Homo sapiens: one gene and its partners. The protein of the gene in region 2 purifies or fractionates together with the protein of the main gene of each other region. This does not show direct contact. Each region holds a gene or a part of one and is shown on either strand. Other genes may lie near its edges.

Region 1 (3,500 bases), on a different chromosome or scaffold from region 2:
GATGATCCAATATTACACAATTATCTGTGGGACTAACTCTTTTTTTTTTGAAATAGAGTCTTGGTCTGCTACCCAGGCTGGAATGCAGTGACATGATCTTGGCTCATTGTAACCTCCACCTCCTGGGTTCAAGCAATTCTCCTATCTCAGCTTCTTGAGTAGCTGGGATTACAGGTGTGTGCCATTACGCCCAGCTAACTCTTTAGAAGGTACTATTACTATAACATTTGAGAGACTAACATCTTTCCCACAGACAATGGGAGGTAGGAAGTTATTGACAGTGTTTTTGGAAAAAGCACAAACAAATTGTTCTTGGAACAGGAACCAAAGCTATTAATATGGTAAGCCATTCTCCAAAAAACTGTAACCAAGTAGTATCCTCGAAAACAGAATTATTAATAGGACTTTGCCAGATTCTGTTAAAGGTGATCTAAACAAAATACAGAGATACCGGAAGTACGGTAGTCAGGAATGGGAGCAAATTAACATAGATTCGGTATATATATTAAATGCCAGTCTCCTTCCATGTCATCACATTTTATCTTCATTACACCTCTGTAAGACAGAATTAATTTCTGTGTTTAGAGATGAAAGACTAAGGCTCAGAGAGATAAAGTATATTAGTGCCCAAGATGACACAGGTAGTCAGGGTGAATCAGGAATTTAAATCTGGTTTAATCTAAAGTTTTATTTTTATTTTTAGTTTTTTATTCTTTCTACTCTATCATACTGTCTTTTTCATATGAAAAAGGTCAGGAACCTGGAAACCTAGATACCCTTGGATACTCTTTTACTCTATTTCTCAACCGAGCTCTCTGCCCACTGAATGGCACCAGGAGTCCCACCTGCCTGGAATGCCTGTTTCTAGACACACTTCATAATTTCCTGAGACCTGCTCACTCACGTTAAGACGCTTGCTGGCATCATCTGGGACTCGGGTGCTGCCTCTATCAAGGACTGCCAGGTATTTGTGGAGTTAGGGATCACAAAGCCAAACTCGAAGAACCATTCTGAAGGAAGAAGGAAAAGCCGGGGTGAGCAGGTGCCCCAGTATAAAGTTTAAGGGCTCTTTGTCTCCCTCTCTAGAGTGAGCCTCTTCCTACCCTGAGAACCACCAAAGGAAGCTATCAGCAACCTCTCAGACCAGGGGCGTAAAAAAGACAGGGAAGCCTGCTCAGGTTGTCCTCTGAACCACACCAAAGGCTTGCTTCTCATGCTTTGAGGTCTAAAGGACTAGGACCAGCGAGCAGGACACAATATAAGCAGCATTTTCTTAGAGGTAGGCTAGATGTGAACTATATATAGATACATAGTTAAATTCACTTGGAATTAGCTTGAAGGGGCTTATGTGCCCTTTACACTGCATGGTGAGAATTCAATGCAGAGTGGCCTTGCCAGTCAAATCTGTATGATACTGTATGTAGAGCACTGTACTAGGCCCTGCTCATAGCAGCTTCCTCCATGATCATATCACAATACAACGTCAGTGCCTAAACCAGGCACCACCATCCACGCTCCCAGTGTCAGAGACCTCAAAGCCCCTTGTAGTGGCTAGCTTTGTTTTGGTTTGTTTCACTGGGGATTCACAGTCTTGCAGAGTGTAGGAATCCTACCACAAACTGAGTTGTAAAAGGAATGTTATCAAAGCACTGCTTTAGTTCACTGGGTATTGTTGCCTTTTGTCCTGGTCGCCCTAAGCCCTGATTTCAGGCATGTAGGCAGCAGAATACCTTCTAGGCATTGCCCTTTGAAGTAAACTTTTTGTTCCAGGCGGAATTTTTCCATTTGTTCTGTCGAAGAAAAATTAAGTTCTCGAGACACTGCCTTGCACTTGAGGATTTTCTTGGGAACACGGGCTGGTAAGAGAAAAACAAATGTTGAAGCCTTTCTAAATGAAAACCACAGGACTATGATGCTTCAAATTTCTGGGAGCTTCTTACAGCTGATTTAGAGAACACTTTCTTACAGCTGATTTAGAGAACACTTTCTTACATTTTGGATAATGCCTTGGTAAGTGCATTACACTTTGTGTGGCTGAAAGCAGAGGTCTCTAATTGGTCACCCGTATCTGAAAGATATTAGATCTTCAAGGAACACCAGGTTTTGTGCATCTAAGGGCCTCATCTAACTACTCTCATCAGGAAGGGGGCTGCATGGGTACCTTCTCTCTACTCTGTTCTGGTGATTTTAACCCCTTCCTTCTTCTTTACTTCAGGGAGATAAAAATGCAAATTTTCTTTTGGAGAAAAAGTTGAGATCTTAGTTTCTATCTTTGGGTATGTTCTAATGGTAAAATATCAGCACAAAATGGGTTTTGGGAAGTGAGAGAAAGAACTGTTAAGAAAGTAACTGGCTGGGCGTGGTGGCTCACACCTGTAATCCCAGCACTTTGGGAGGCTGAGGCGGGCAGATCACTTGATGTCCGGAGTTCGAGACCAGGATGGCCAACATGGTGAAACCCCATCTCTACTCAAAATACAAAAATTAGCCAGATGTGGTGGCGCACGCCTGTAGTCCCAGCTACTCGGGAGGCTGAGGCATGAAAATCGCTGGAACCTGGGAAGCAGAGGTTGCAGTGAGCCAAGATCACACCACTGCATTCCATCCAGCCTGGGTGATAGAGCAAGACTGTGTCTCAAAAAAAAAAAAAAAAAAAAAAAAAGAAAGTAACTGAAACTGTCAACAACACATGGATTAACATGCTGTGTCTTCAGGGGCTCACCCGCCTATTAGGTATGTGTTAACTTAGCTCTCTTATGCTCAGGTGCTAGTCTGGCATTGGTCACAGCCCTGTGTAGATAAAGGGTTGGAAAGTACCTTCATGCTCCACACCAGGGACAGACAGGTCTTCTGTTCCTTGCCAGAGTATCTTCCCTGTCTCAGCATCCCGAAGGTTCATCCAATTTCTGATCAAATATGACTAAGGAAAAATAAGGCACTGAAAGTGACTCCCACTTTGTATTCTAGGTGTCTCATGTTTACTCCCACCAACTCTTGTTTACTTTTTAAAAAGTTTGTCAAACTGCTCATTGCCATGGAAGCACATAAGAATGTGAGGAGAGTCAAAAAGACATCTAAAGGAAGAAGCAGAAACCTAGAGAAGTTACTTTTATCTATGAGAATCCTAAGACTGCACACACCTAGAGACTGCAAGAAAGGGACAGAAAACGAATAGTGCAAAATTTAAAATTTACCAACAGGATCTGACCAACCAAGATAAAATACCTAAAGAAACAAATATCAGATGTACCCCAAGGAAACAACTCATGAAGATCACTCTATAGTGAATGCCACAGTCCATAAACTTCACCCACAAGCACAGAACTCTCAAATTGCTTTGTAGTGGCCCCCTCTGTTTTTTTTTTTTGAAACAGAGTCTCACTCTGTCACACAGGCTGGAATGCAGTGGCACAATCTCGGCTCACTACAACCTTCATCTCCTTGGTTCAAGCAATTCTTGTGCCTCAGCCTCCTGAGTAGCTGGAATTATAGGAGCACGT
Region 2 (4,132 bases):
TCAGTCCTACCCCCAGCACCCTCAAAAGCTGGGGTGTCTGCATGTCCCTTCACATAATTGATAATGGTACCACCTTCTATAATAATAATATAAAATAAAAACATCTGATGTCTGGGTTTTTTCATTTCCAAATTTGTAGACTCCCAGGAAAAGATTTTTTGCGGCCTTTTAAAAATCTGGTTCTTGGCAGTTTATCCATCTGTATCGATCCTGTGGGCTGTAAAGGAAAAGACAGACGCAGGTGATCAGAAGGTGGCCATTCCCATGCACCTTTCTACTGATGGGGCTCAGCAGTCACCCGGACCAGCAGCTGGCTGGGCCCAGGCGAGGCAGAGCACCCGCTGCTGAAAATCAACTGCTGCTGGAACGTAGAGGTCTGCTTTCATCCCCCGCCACTCAAGCCGCAGTTTCCAACGCGCTCACTCTAATTCTACCTGTGAAAGGGCCCCAGCCCCCCTTTTAGGGCACAAATCATGGGCTCTGAGTGAATCATGGGTCAAGGGCTAGTTGGCGTCTCTGCTCCCAGGTGGGCAGCTGAGGAAGGTGGAAGGTGGCTGGCAGCCCACACACTGAGCAGCCGCTTCGAGGTCCCCGCCCCCGTTAGCTGGTGACTGCGAAGGGACGGCTACTCACACTGCTTTGGTATCCGGAGGGCCTCACTGTCCAGCACCATCACCTGATGCAGGACGCCCCGGAACTGATAGAGCACTTTCAGGTTCTTCTCTTCCCCCACACACGGGTCATAAAAGCCAGGCAGCCCAGCCTGTAACAAACAAATTGCTACTCTCAATACTCCAGACGGTCTAAGACCAGCACTCCTCCTCACTACCACCGGAGGGGCAGTGTGCACAGGCTCTGACATTCCCTGGGGAGATGCAAACTTTGGGGCATGAAGAAAAAGAAACAAGAATTTGAAAAAGTTGCCAAGACTCGCTTCTTAATAAAGGCCCTATCCTCACACTAAGACAGGGCCACCAGATGACTTCTAGGGTGCCAGGAACTCTCTGGCCTGAGCTAACCTGCATTTTCATCCTTCTGTATGGTCCATGCCCCAGGCCCCAGAGGCAAGACTCACACATGTTACAAGTGACCTCATGATCTTTCTGGAATGAGGCAAAAATAAACAGAATCAAATGCCATGAAGGCAGGCGTGTGTTCTGTTTGCTGGTGTGACTGGCACACACCAGGGGCTCAGTAAATCCTTACTGAGTGGTGAAAGAAATGACTGAATGAAGAGAATAGCTCCAACGTGGGTACTACTCAGGAGCTGGGCAGCATCCCACACAGTAGATGCTGATGACGGCAAAGATCCCACTTTAAGGGGCCAGGCTGTCCTTGTCAGACTGAACCTATTCTTCACACCACTGTTTGTTTGTTTGTTTTGAGACAGGGTCTTGCTCTGTCACCCAGGCTGGAGTGCAGTGGCACAATCACAGCTCACTGTAGCCTCAACCTCCTGGGCTCAACCAATCCTTCCGCTTCAGCCTCCCGAACAGCTGGGACAACAGGTGTGTGTCACCATGCCCAGCTGATTTTTTCTCTTTTTTGTAGAGATAGGGTTTTGCCATGTTGCCTAGGCTGATCTTGAACTCCTGGGCTCAAGCAATCCGCCCACCTTGGCCTTCCAAAGTGCTAGGATTATAGGCCTGAGTCACCGCGCCCAGCCTGTTCAAATCTGTGAGCACATAGCATGTGGTGGCTGGTGCTGCTGTACCTTGGAGGCCTCCGTGAGGATGAGCTTCGAGTCCTTCACCAGGCACTGCAGGGGCACAGTCACGTCAATCACCTTCACCTTCTCGCTCTTCCTGCTCTTGTCATTGACAAACTTCCCGTACCAGGCATTGACGATGATGAGGCCTAAGGACAGACTCCGAGTAGAGGAAGGCCTCCTCCAGGCACCTCCTTGTGTGGCTTAGAGACCCCCAGCGCCCACCCTGGACCAAGAGAGGACACATGTTCTCACCCATTCTGGACTCTTCTGCCTCAATTATCCTTCGGACAGATTCCTGCATCAGCCGGACCTGCCAGAGAACAAGGATGACACAGTCAGGGCCCTGCCAGGCCTGTTCCACCTCTGGTGAGAGGGCCACAGGCAGGCAGTCTTGTCCACGTCAACATACTTGCTCAGGGCCTGGAAAGGAAGGGAGTGGGCACCCTGACAGCTCTGCTACCCGAGTGGCTCACTCTGAAACTCCTAGACCTAGGGCAGGCAGCTCTGGGTCAGAAGGTGAGAAGCACCTGAAACGGCATGACCCTCCGGTGGCCACCGGTGGGAGCTCCCTTTCTAGGGATCATTAATGCGTGGGTGGGATTTGTTGACCCAATAAAAAAACAATGCGTTGTCAGCTTTAAAAATAAAGAGATTTCACAGGAGAAGCTGGAATCCCAGCTCCTCTTGAGAAAGGACCTGTGTTCTCCTGTGGTGCCATTCTGCTGGGCATAGCTGTGCCGCCCCCTCAGACAGGCATGTGCTCGCCAGGCCGCGCACACGGCCCATGGCCACCTGGCAGTATGCTCGCCACATACCCAGGAAGCCTGCTCCCTCCTGCTCAGTAAAAGGCAGAACACTCAGAGGGAAGAAAAAGAGGCCAATACTCACCACTTTAAAAAAGCCCTTGTTAGGCCTTTGGAGGGTAATTATCTTCAGGGCAGGGACTGCAGAGCCCAGTGTCGCATCCCACAATAAAGACTAAGTGGAGAGCCAAGTTGTTGGAGAAGAGAAGTCTGACCTCTAAGGCCCTGAGACCAACATGTGGGGTGTGGAGTGTGTCCCCTACAGCCCTCGCTTGGGAACGGTGGGGCAGCACTCACAGCGGACTCCGCCTCTTGCTTCTTCTGCAGCACATCGGTGGCGGCGCTTTCCCTCTGCTTCTCCAATTCCCTTACGCGAGAGGAACACAAGCCCCACGTTAGCGCGGCGCTGCCCAGCTTCCAGCCAACACAGCCCCTCCCGTGCTGGACCCGAGCCCAGCAAACAGTCTGTGATCTTACTGGAGTTCAGTTGTAGAACTTTAAAAAATATTCCCACGACAGTCTCAGGCAAGTCTGTTAGTCACAGGCTGGCAGCTTTCATTTTATCCTTAGATGGCTCTGCCCCACCTCCTCACCAAGCTGACGGGACACCGACTGTCAGTCTCTTTGGAAAGAAGACCCCACCACAGGAGAATTTCAGGAGATCCCACCAACCTTGTGGGATTATTATTTTTTTAATTTTAATTTTAAGATAGAGATGGGGGTCTCACTATATTGCCCAGGCTAGTCTCGAACTCCTGGGCTCAAGTGATCCTACTGTCTCGGCCTCCCGAAGTGCTAGGGTTACAGGCGTGAGTTGTTAAATAACACTTTTGGTAGGAACAACTAATACCACTTTAGACACACAGATCCGCTTTCCTGTAACAAAGTATGGGCCTTGGGGTCAGCATATGCCTGTCCTCCCTTCTGAGAGAAGGCTGGGCCAGCACATGTCTTGTTCTAAGCCTCAAGCCTCCTAGGGAATTAGGATTCTGAGTCCAAAGGCCAGACGGGCCCAGAAGAGGAGATTCATTCCTTTATCTGAGATTCTCTAAGTGCAATGCTTTACTAAATGAGATATTATAAAGTAACAAATCTATACCAGCTCTCAGTTTTCTGTAGAGATGCTTGCACTAATAATTTAGGTTTCACGGCATGCCCCAATGGATTATCTAAGAAACTGCAAAAACGTTGTGTTTCTGTGACTTTCAAGACTCTAGTTAACGCAGGCCCCTCACATACGGATCCAGAACGCATTCCTCTTAAACTCAGCGCTGGGAAAGGAGAAAGGAAAACTTCTTCTTTCTTGAGGCCATGGTTTAGAGGATCAACACTTTTTTTTTTTTTTTTTTTGAGACCGAGTCTTGCTCTGTCACCCAGGCTGGAGTGCAATGGCGCAATCTAGGCTCACTGCAACATCCACCTCCCAGGTTCAAGCAATTCTCCTGTCTCAGCCTCCCAGGTAGCTGGGATTACAGGCACGTGCCACCACGCCCGGCTAATTTTTCTATTTTTTTAGTAGAGACAGGGTTTCACCATGTTGGCCAGACTGGTCCTGAACGCCTCACCTCGGGTAATCCACCTGCCTCAGCCTTCCAAAGTGCTGGGAATACAGGCGTGA
Region 3 (3,500 bases), on a different chromosome or scaffold from region 2:
GTTATTATTTACATTTTGCAGGTGAGGAGACTAAGCACAGAGATTAAATAACTTGCACAAGTTTACACAGATAGTAAAGGGCAAACTTGGTATTCAAATCCAGGTATTCTGAAGTTAGAGTATGCTGCATTTTTGACCTCTAAAATGTACATCCTCCTTTCTACTGATGGAGAAAGAGGATGAAGATATATAATAAATGAAAAAGTAGTTTAGAACTGAATGTCTAGTTTGCTGTCATTTGTATTTTAAATTTTTTTAAAAAGTGACAGCACACAGTAGGATACCAAAGAAACGTAACAGTTACTTATAAGGAGCAGATGGATGGCCTTTCAGCTTTCACTTTCCATCTCTTTCATGGGTGTTTTAATAATAGGCATGTATTACTTGATTTTTTTTTTTTTTTAAGAGACAGGGTCTCGCTCTGTCACCTAGTCTGGAGTGCAGTGACATAATCATTGCTCACTGTAGCCTCTTACTCCTAGGCTCAAGCTCTTCTCCTGTCTTAACCTCCAAAGTAGCTGGAGCTACAAGCATATGCCACCATGCCGCACTAATTTTTTAAATTTTTGTAGAGATGGAGTTTCACTATGTTGCCCTGGCCGGTCTTAAAACTCTTGGGCTCAAGTGGATGCTCCTGCTTTGGCCTTCCAAAATGCTGAGATGAGAGGTATGAGCCACTATTCCTGGCCACTTACATATATTTTTAACTGAAATAAATGTAGCTGACATTTTGAAAAGTTGTAATATTTAATGAAGATTAAGCTAAAGTCATGAATAAAAAATGGTTTATCTATCCCTGCTTACATACTGTTATGTAGGGTTTCCCTTGTCCTAATATCCTACCACCAGCTCACTTCAAATTCACTTCCTCTGGGGTTCATCTCTTATCTGATCCTACTTTTGAATACTTACATTTTTGTTTTTGTTTTTTGAGACAGGACAGGGTCTCCACTCTGCTGCCCAGGCTGGAGTGCAGTGGCATGATCTCAGCTCACTGCAGCCTTGACCTCCTGGACTCAAGTAGTCCTCTCTCCTCAGCCTGCTGAGTAGCTGGCAAGCACCACCACGCCTGGCTCATTTTTTAAATATATTTTTTTGTGGAGATGGGGTTTCACCATGTTGCCTGGGCTGGTCTCAAACTCCTAAGCTCAAGGGATCTGCCCGCCTTGGCCTCCCAAAGTGCTGGGATTACAGCTGGGATTACAGGCGCGAGCCAACGTGCCCAGCCCCCAGATACTTAATATTTCTGATTGACAGAGTACCTCATTTGTCATTTAGCCTTTTTTTTTTTTTTTTTGGAGACAGAGTCTTGCTGTGTCGCCCAGGCTGGAGTGCAGTGGCATGATCTCTACTCACTGCAACCTCCGCCTCCCAGGTTCAAGCAATTCTCCTGCCTCAGCCTCCTAAGTAGCTGGGATTACAGGCACGCACTACCATGCCTGGCTAATTTTTGTATTTTTAGTAGAGACGGGGTTTCACCATGTTGGCCAGGCTTGAATTCCTGGCCTCAAGTGATCCGCCTGTCTTGGCCTCCCAAAGTTCTGGGATTACAGGCGTGAGCCACCATGCCCCACCAAAATGTAATTTAGCCTTTTAAATGGCCTAAATTTTCTATTGTTTCCGAAAGGACTTGATACTGCTTACAGTAAGATAATGATGCACATCATAGGAACTATAAACATTGAGATTACAATTATATAGCCTAATATAGTTCTACAATTGAGCAGTAAATTTAACTTAGTTTCCTGGAAGTAGGCAAAAAATAAAATATTTTAAGTTCTGTAGTTGTGGTTTGACAAAAAGACACATATGTTTTTGTTTAAAGGAACATTTTTCTGATTCTAAATTTTGAGAAGAAATGTGTTTCATGGACCCTTTTATGCAATTTATCCTGTTCTGGTTACTTCTTGTTTTGTTGTTTTTTTTGTCTACCCAACTAAATTATAAGCTTCCTTAGGACACACTCTATTTTTCAATACTATTTTTGTTCTATCTCTGCCTAGAAAATTTGCGCTTATTATAGTTGAAATGATAAATTAGGCAACAATTGCAACATAGCCATATTTCATGGATAATGTTACCACCAGTTTTCAAAGACTTAATTTTTGAGTAGTTTAGGAATTTATATTACTTTCATCCCTTTCAGCAGGGAATCCTTTTTGAGACAGGGTCTCACTCTGTCACCCAGGCTAGAGTGCAGTGGCATAATCATGACTCACTGAAGCCTCAATCTCCTGGGCTCCCAGGCTTAAGCTGTCCTCCCACCACAGCCTCCGGAGTAGCTGGGACTACAGGTGTGCACCATACCCAGCTGTGTTCTTTGGTTCTTTGGGGTGTTTTTTTTTTTTTTTTAGAGATGAGGTCTTGCTGTGTTGCCCAGGCTGGTGTCAAATTCCTGGACTCAAGCAGTCCTCCCACCTCAGCCTCCCAAAGTGCTGGGCCGATCAACAGGGAATCTTTTGTGATAGCCTTCAAAAAAAATAATTTATTTATTTGTATGTAGCACTCTGTCATCTTGTAGCCCATACTTTCTAGCTGAGTATGTAGTATGAAAAACTGGAAATTAGAACTTTGGTTTTATGAAAGTTAAATCTTTTTAAATAGGGCTTATAGCTTTCAACTACCTTTTCCTTTCCCTTAGGCCAAGTCATCAAGGCATGGGACATTGGGGTGGCTACCATGAAGAAAGGAGAGATATGCCATTTACTGTGCAAACCAGAATATGCATATGGCTCGGCTGGCAGTCTCCCTAAAATTCCCTCGAATGCAACTCTCTTTTTTGAGGCAAGTATGTGTGTGATGTTGCCTTGTCAGCATCTGCTCTACAATAGGAATGGCTTTGAAGCAACAGGCAGTGGGAAAAGGAGCTAAGCTTGCTATAGAGAATCAGATCCAACTTACTTATTTTGGAGCATGGCTTCTTGAATTGTTTCCCACAAACCCAAGGGTGCGCGTGCCAGTGCTTTCTTAGAAACGTGTTTCTAGCACAAAAAGGTCATATCCAAATAAACAAAAGACGCTACACTTAGAAATAAAGATTCTGGTCCATGGTGTGAGTGTGACATACTCAAAATTGACCAGAGTACAGGATGGAAATGTTGGCGATAAATGTTGAAATATGCCTATGTCACGTTGCGGGGTATTTACATATTATAAAAATTTATGTGTCACAGATCTCACTTCTCTAGAAGCCGTTGGTGGTGATAAAACATTATTCATCCTATGTTGAATTACATATATTTGGCAAAACTTGATTTTTAAGAACCACCCCAGCTAGGTAAAATACACCTTTAATCAGTCGTAGGTCACATCCATGAGATTTATTCTTACATTTTGAGAAGGGAACTCCATAAACCCAGGATGGGAAAGTTGTGGCCTCAAACAAAATAGTTCTACACCAGCACCTTGTAGCTCTGGCTTTTTGCCCACAGGGTAGTTTTCCTAGTATTTCCTATCTTTGCACTGCAGTCCCTTAGGATATAGTTCTAGACATTAGCATT
Region 4 (3,500 bases), on a different chromosome or scaffold from region 2:
TCAGGGAAATGCACTGGCCGAGGAGGGCACAGAAGATGGGCTGGGGGCCTCTTCTCTCATGTTTCTCCTTCCCTACAAACTTCGACTGTGGTGGACACCCAAGGCTGCCCCCCATCCCCACTGCAGCCCACATCGGGTCAGGCAGACAGACCCGTTTCCAGTAAATGCTGCCCCAGACACTTTGAAGCAAAGTGTTGGCTGATCGCCACGGTCAAGGCCCATCTGGTGGCTGCAGCCCCTCTTCCCCCACAGCCACGGGCCCCTCCATCCAGGCCCCTGGCTTGCTCAGAAGCTGGGCAGTAAGTGCGGGGCAGCTGGGAAGACACAGGAAAGCTGCAAGGGACACGGTGATGCCTACCTCTTTGCCTCCCAGAGTCGCAGAGTTCATCCTCCTGGAAAAGAGTATACACAAAGTCCGGCAGTGAGCTGGTGTGTCCAGACTCTCCACAACCAGCCCAGTCCCTGGCCACTGCCTGGTGGGCAGTCTCACCCAAGACCTAGGTTGCTATGCCACCAAGAATGAGCCACAGTGTGTTAGGACCAGCCTCCGGGGCTCAGGACAGGGCCTGTGTGTCCTGTTATTACTCCTAGTTGCCTTCAGAGATTCTGTGACAATCACCTTGCTAAAAAGCCATTCACCCACCCTCTCTCGGTTCCTCCTAAGCTGCAGAACTGCCTGCCCCATGACAAAGACCCACCCGTACAATTCTATGAATGGAGCCTGTTCACCAACCGTAGGGAGATAGAGTCTCACTTGGGGGATGCCAGTTCTGGCATTCTTCATAGAAAATGGGTTCCACCACGTTTCCCGAGCTTTTGTTTATATTTACCCAATGTCTTTTTTTTTTTTTTTTTTTTTTTTGAGACGGAGTCTCGCCCTGTCTCCCAGGCTGGAGTGCAATGATGCAATCTCAGCTCACTGCAACCTCTGCTTCCTGGGTTGAAGCAAATCCTCTGCCTCAGCCTCCCGAGTAGCTGGGACTATAGGCGCATGCCGCCACATCCAGCTAATTTTTGTATTTTCAGTAGAGACGGGGTTTCACCATATTGGCCAGGATGGTCTCAATCTTGTGACCTCGTGATCCACCCGCCTTGGCCTCCCAAAGTGCTGGGATTACAGGTGTGAGCCACCGCGCCAGGCCTATATTTACCCGATGTCTTAATAACAATCACGTATAGATAAAAACGATTCAACTGAGAATCTGAACAGAGCTGACTCCTTAGGCAGTGAACATACGGCTAAATTAACAATCAGCAGGTTTACAGAGATTCCTAATCTCAAGACCAGCAAAATAGGGATCAAGTGAGACTCTGAAAACCTGAAAAGCCACCATCTCCTGCCTGTTCCCTGCCTGTGTGACTCTAAGGACTTGGGGAAGGCCCTCCTTCCCACTCTGGACCTCCAGGCCCTACACCTCCAACTTGGATCAGAATCTACACTGGGGTGGCTGAGGCACCTCCCCAAGAGCTTGGGGTGGTCCCGGCTATGAACTGGCCCCACGTGCTGCCTGCCTGTGCCTTGTTGTGAGGATGGAAGGATGAGGACACCAGTCAGCGGCACCCGGCACGGAGCTGGCGGCAAATGAGCCTCCAGCCTGTGCTTGGAGGCTTCAGCCCACAGTCCCTGCACTTACTGGCCTAGAGACCAGGGAGAGGAACTGGGAGCTTTTTTCAGAAAAGGAATGTTTGTTGTAAGTTGAAAACTTTTTTTTTTTTTTTGAGACGGAGTCTCCCTCTGTCGCCCAGGCTGGGGTGCAGTGATGCAACGTCAGCTCACTGCAACCTCCACCTCCCAGGTTCAAGTGATCCTCCTCCCTCAGCCTCCCAAGTAGCTGCTACTACAGGCAAGTGCCACCACTCCTGGCTAATTTTTGTATTTTTAATCGAGACGGGGTTTCACCATGTTGGCCAGGCTGGTCTCCAACTCTCGACCTCAAGTGATCCACCCACCTGAGCCTCCCTAAGTGCTAGGATTACAGGTGTGAGCCACCGTGCCGGCTAAGGTGGAAAACTTTTAGAAATCTAGCTAAAAGTCAGGGTCCTGAATCCACTCAGAGGTAGTCAAATCTACCATGGCAGCTGCTCCTGCCCCTTTGTGAGGAAGGGTGATTAAAGAAAGAAGAAATCCCACACTAGAGGCAAAAGGGCTGCCTGGTGGACTTACACCCTTGAATTCTTCATCTCCTGAGCGGAAGTCACCAGCTGCGTCATCTGCCAGACACAAAGAAAGGAAAAGTCAGTCCCCGGAGAACGGTCCCATCCGGTTTCCGCCCTCCCAAGCTCGCCATCCAGGGTGAGTCTGCCCTGACCACAGTGGGGTTGAAACATGCCACCTGCGAGTGTCCACGACACAGATGGGGCAAGCAGAGCCCCCAGCAGGCAGCCGACCCATCCTACATCTGTCTGGCCCACCTGGCCCCCAGGACATACCATTTTCGGAGAAATCTCCTTCACTGTCAACCCGGGCCAGTTTGGTGTCTGGCTCCTCGTAAAGTTGGAACTGCTTCCGTTTCCTGCCCGTGCCATCTGGTCCGAAGCGGTCAAACCCTCTCCTCTTGGGCTACAGACAACAAGCACACCCCATGAGCTACTTACGAGGGCCATGAAGATGCCCCACAGAAAAGAACAAGGAGGTTGTAGGATCAGACAACACAGGCACAAAAGGTCTTTTCAAAAAGCAAAGAGACAACATAATTTGAAACTAAAAAGAAAATCATGCTGAGTGAAAAGAAGCCAGGAACAAAAGGCCACACGTTTCGCGACTCCATTTGTGCAAAATGTCTAGAACACACAAATCCAGAGACCAGTGGTGGTTGTCGGGGGCTGGTGGGGGCGGGGAAGAGACAGGGGTGACTAATGAGAAGAAGTTTCTCTTCTGGTTGACATAAATGCTAAGATTAGACTGTGATGGTGGGGATGGTTGCACAATCCTGTAAATTAACTAAAAGTCGAACTGCGCACTTAAAAACATTTAAGTGAATGTTGAGATGGGGAAATTTTACCTCAATAAAGCTGCTAAAAAGAGAAGCGAAGGCGGCCGGAAGGAACCTTGCGAGGGCTTACCCGATCCCGATCCCGCATCCGAGGCTGCGAGCGGCCACATCCGTAGGGCATGGTGCTGTCATAGCCGCCCGCCCCCTGCATGCCCATCACGCCGTAGTCGGGAGCCATGGACTGGGAGAAGAGGGACGGAGGTGGCCGGCTGGGGGAGGGCCCTCCCAGGCCCCGTCCACCCACGTAGTTCAGCTCGTTCCAGGGCGTGGACAGGGGCTCAGAGGACGCAGCGGGGGGCACGAAGGGGTCGCTGCGCATGAAGGTGCCAGGGTTGCTCCGGTCCTGGAAGCGGCCCTGGCCCCGGCCCCGCATGAAGCCATCAAGGGAGCCCCGCTCCCGGGCTGGGTCTCGGCATTCACTGTACTGCCCCCCAAAGCTGCCATTGCGGTCGGACCCCAGGTCGAACTCATAGTCGTAGCTGTAGCTGGGGCGGTAGGGGTTGTGCT

The links. Proteins that work in one complex are often made in the same cells at the same time.
Region 1: the proteins of DNAJC11 (region 2) and PDE6D purify together in Homo sapiens (affinity purification with mass spectrometry; one large-scale study listed by BioGRID and IntAct). This does not show direct contact.
Region 3: the proteins of DNAJC11 (region 2) and FKBP5 purify together in Homo sapiens (affinity purification with mass spectrometry; 2 studies listed by BioGRID and IntAct, with this or other methods). This does not show direct contact.
Region 4: the proteins of DNAJC11 (region 2) and AKAP8 purify together in Homo sapiens (affinity purification with mass spectrometry, with the first as the bait; one large-scale study listed by BioGRID). This does not show direct contact.

What each region holds. Positions count from the first base shown.
Region 1 is NC_000002.12:231,736,283-231,739,782, forward strand, and holds part of PDE6D (retinal rod rhodopsin-sensitive cGMP 3',5'-cyclic phosphodiesterase subunit delta), read right to left. Parts: intron 2,921-3,500; coding exon of another isoform or gene 2,907-2,920; coding exon 2,818-2,906; intron 1,857-2,817; coding exon 1,731-1,856; intron 1,011-1,730; coding exon 905-1,010; intron 1-904. UniProt on the Homo sapiens protein: Promotes the release of prenylated target proteins from cellular membranes. Modulates the activity of prenylated or palmitoylated Ras family members by regulating their subcellular location.
Region 2 is NC_000001.11:6,635,484-6,639,615, forward strand, and holds part of DNAJC11 (dnaJ homolog subfamily C member 11), read right to left. Parts: intron 2,882-4,132; coding exon 2,812-2,881; intron 2,022-2,811; coding exon 1,964-2,021; intron 1,858-1,963; coding exon 1,715-1,857; intron 764-1,714; coding exon 634-763; intron 218-633; coding exon 192-217; 3' UTR 1-191.
Region 3 is NC_000006.12:35,619,416-35,622,915, reverse strand, and holds part of FKBP5 (peptidyl-prolyl cis-trans isomerase FKBP5), read left to right. Parts: intron 1-2,641; coding exon 2,642-2,784; intron 2,785-3,500. UniProt on the Homo sapiens protein: Immunophilin protein with PPIase and co-chaperone activities. Component of unligated steroid receptors heterocomplexes through interaction with heat-shock protein 90 (HSP90).
Region 4 is NC_000019.10:15,369,788-15,373,287, forward strand, and holds part of AKAP8 (A-kinase anchor protein 8), read right to left. Parts: coding exon 3,064-3,500; intron 2,561-3,063; coding exon 2,431-2,560; intron 2,212-2,430; coding exon 2,165-2,211; intron 393-2,164; coding exon 359-392; intron 1-358. UniProt on the Homo sapiens protein: Anchoring protein that mediates the subcellular compartmentation of cAMP-dependent protein kinase (PKA type II).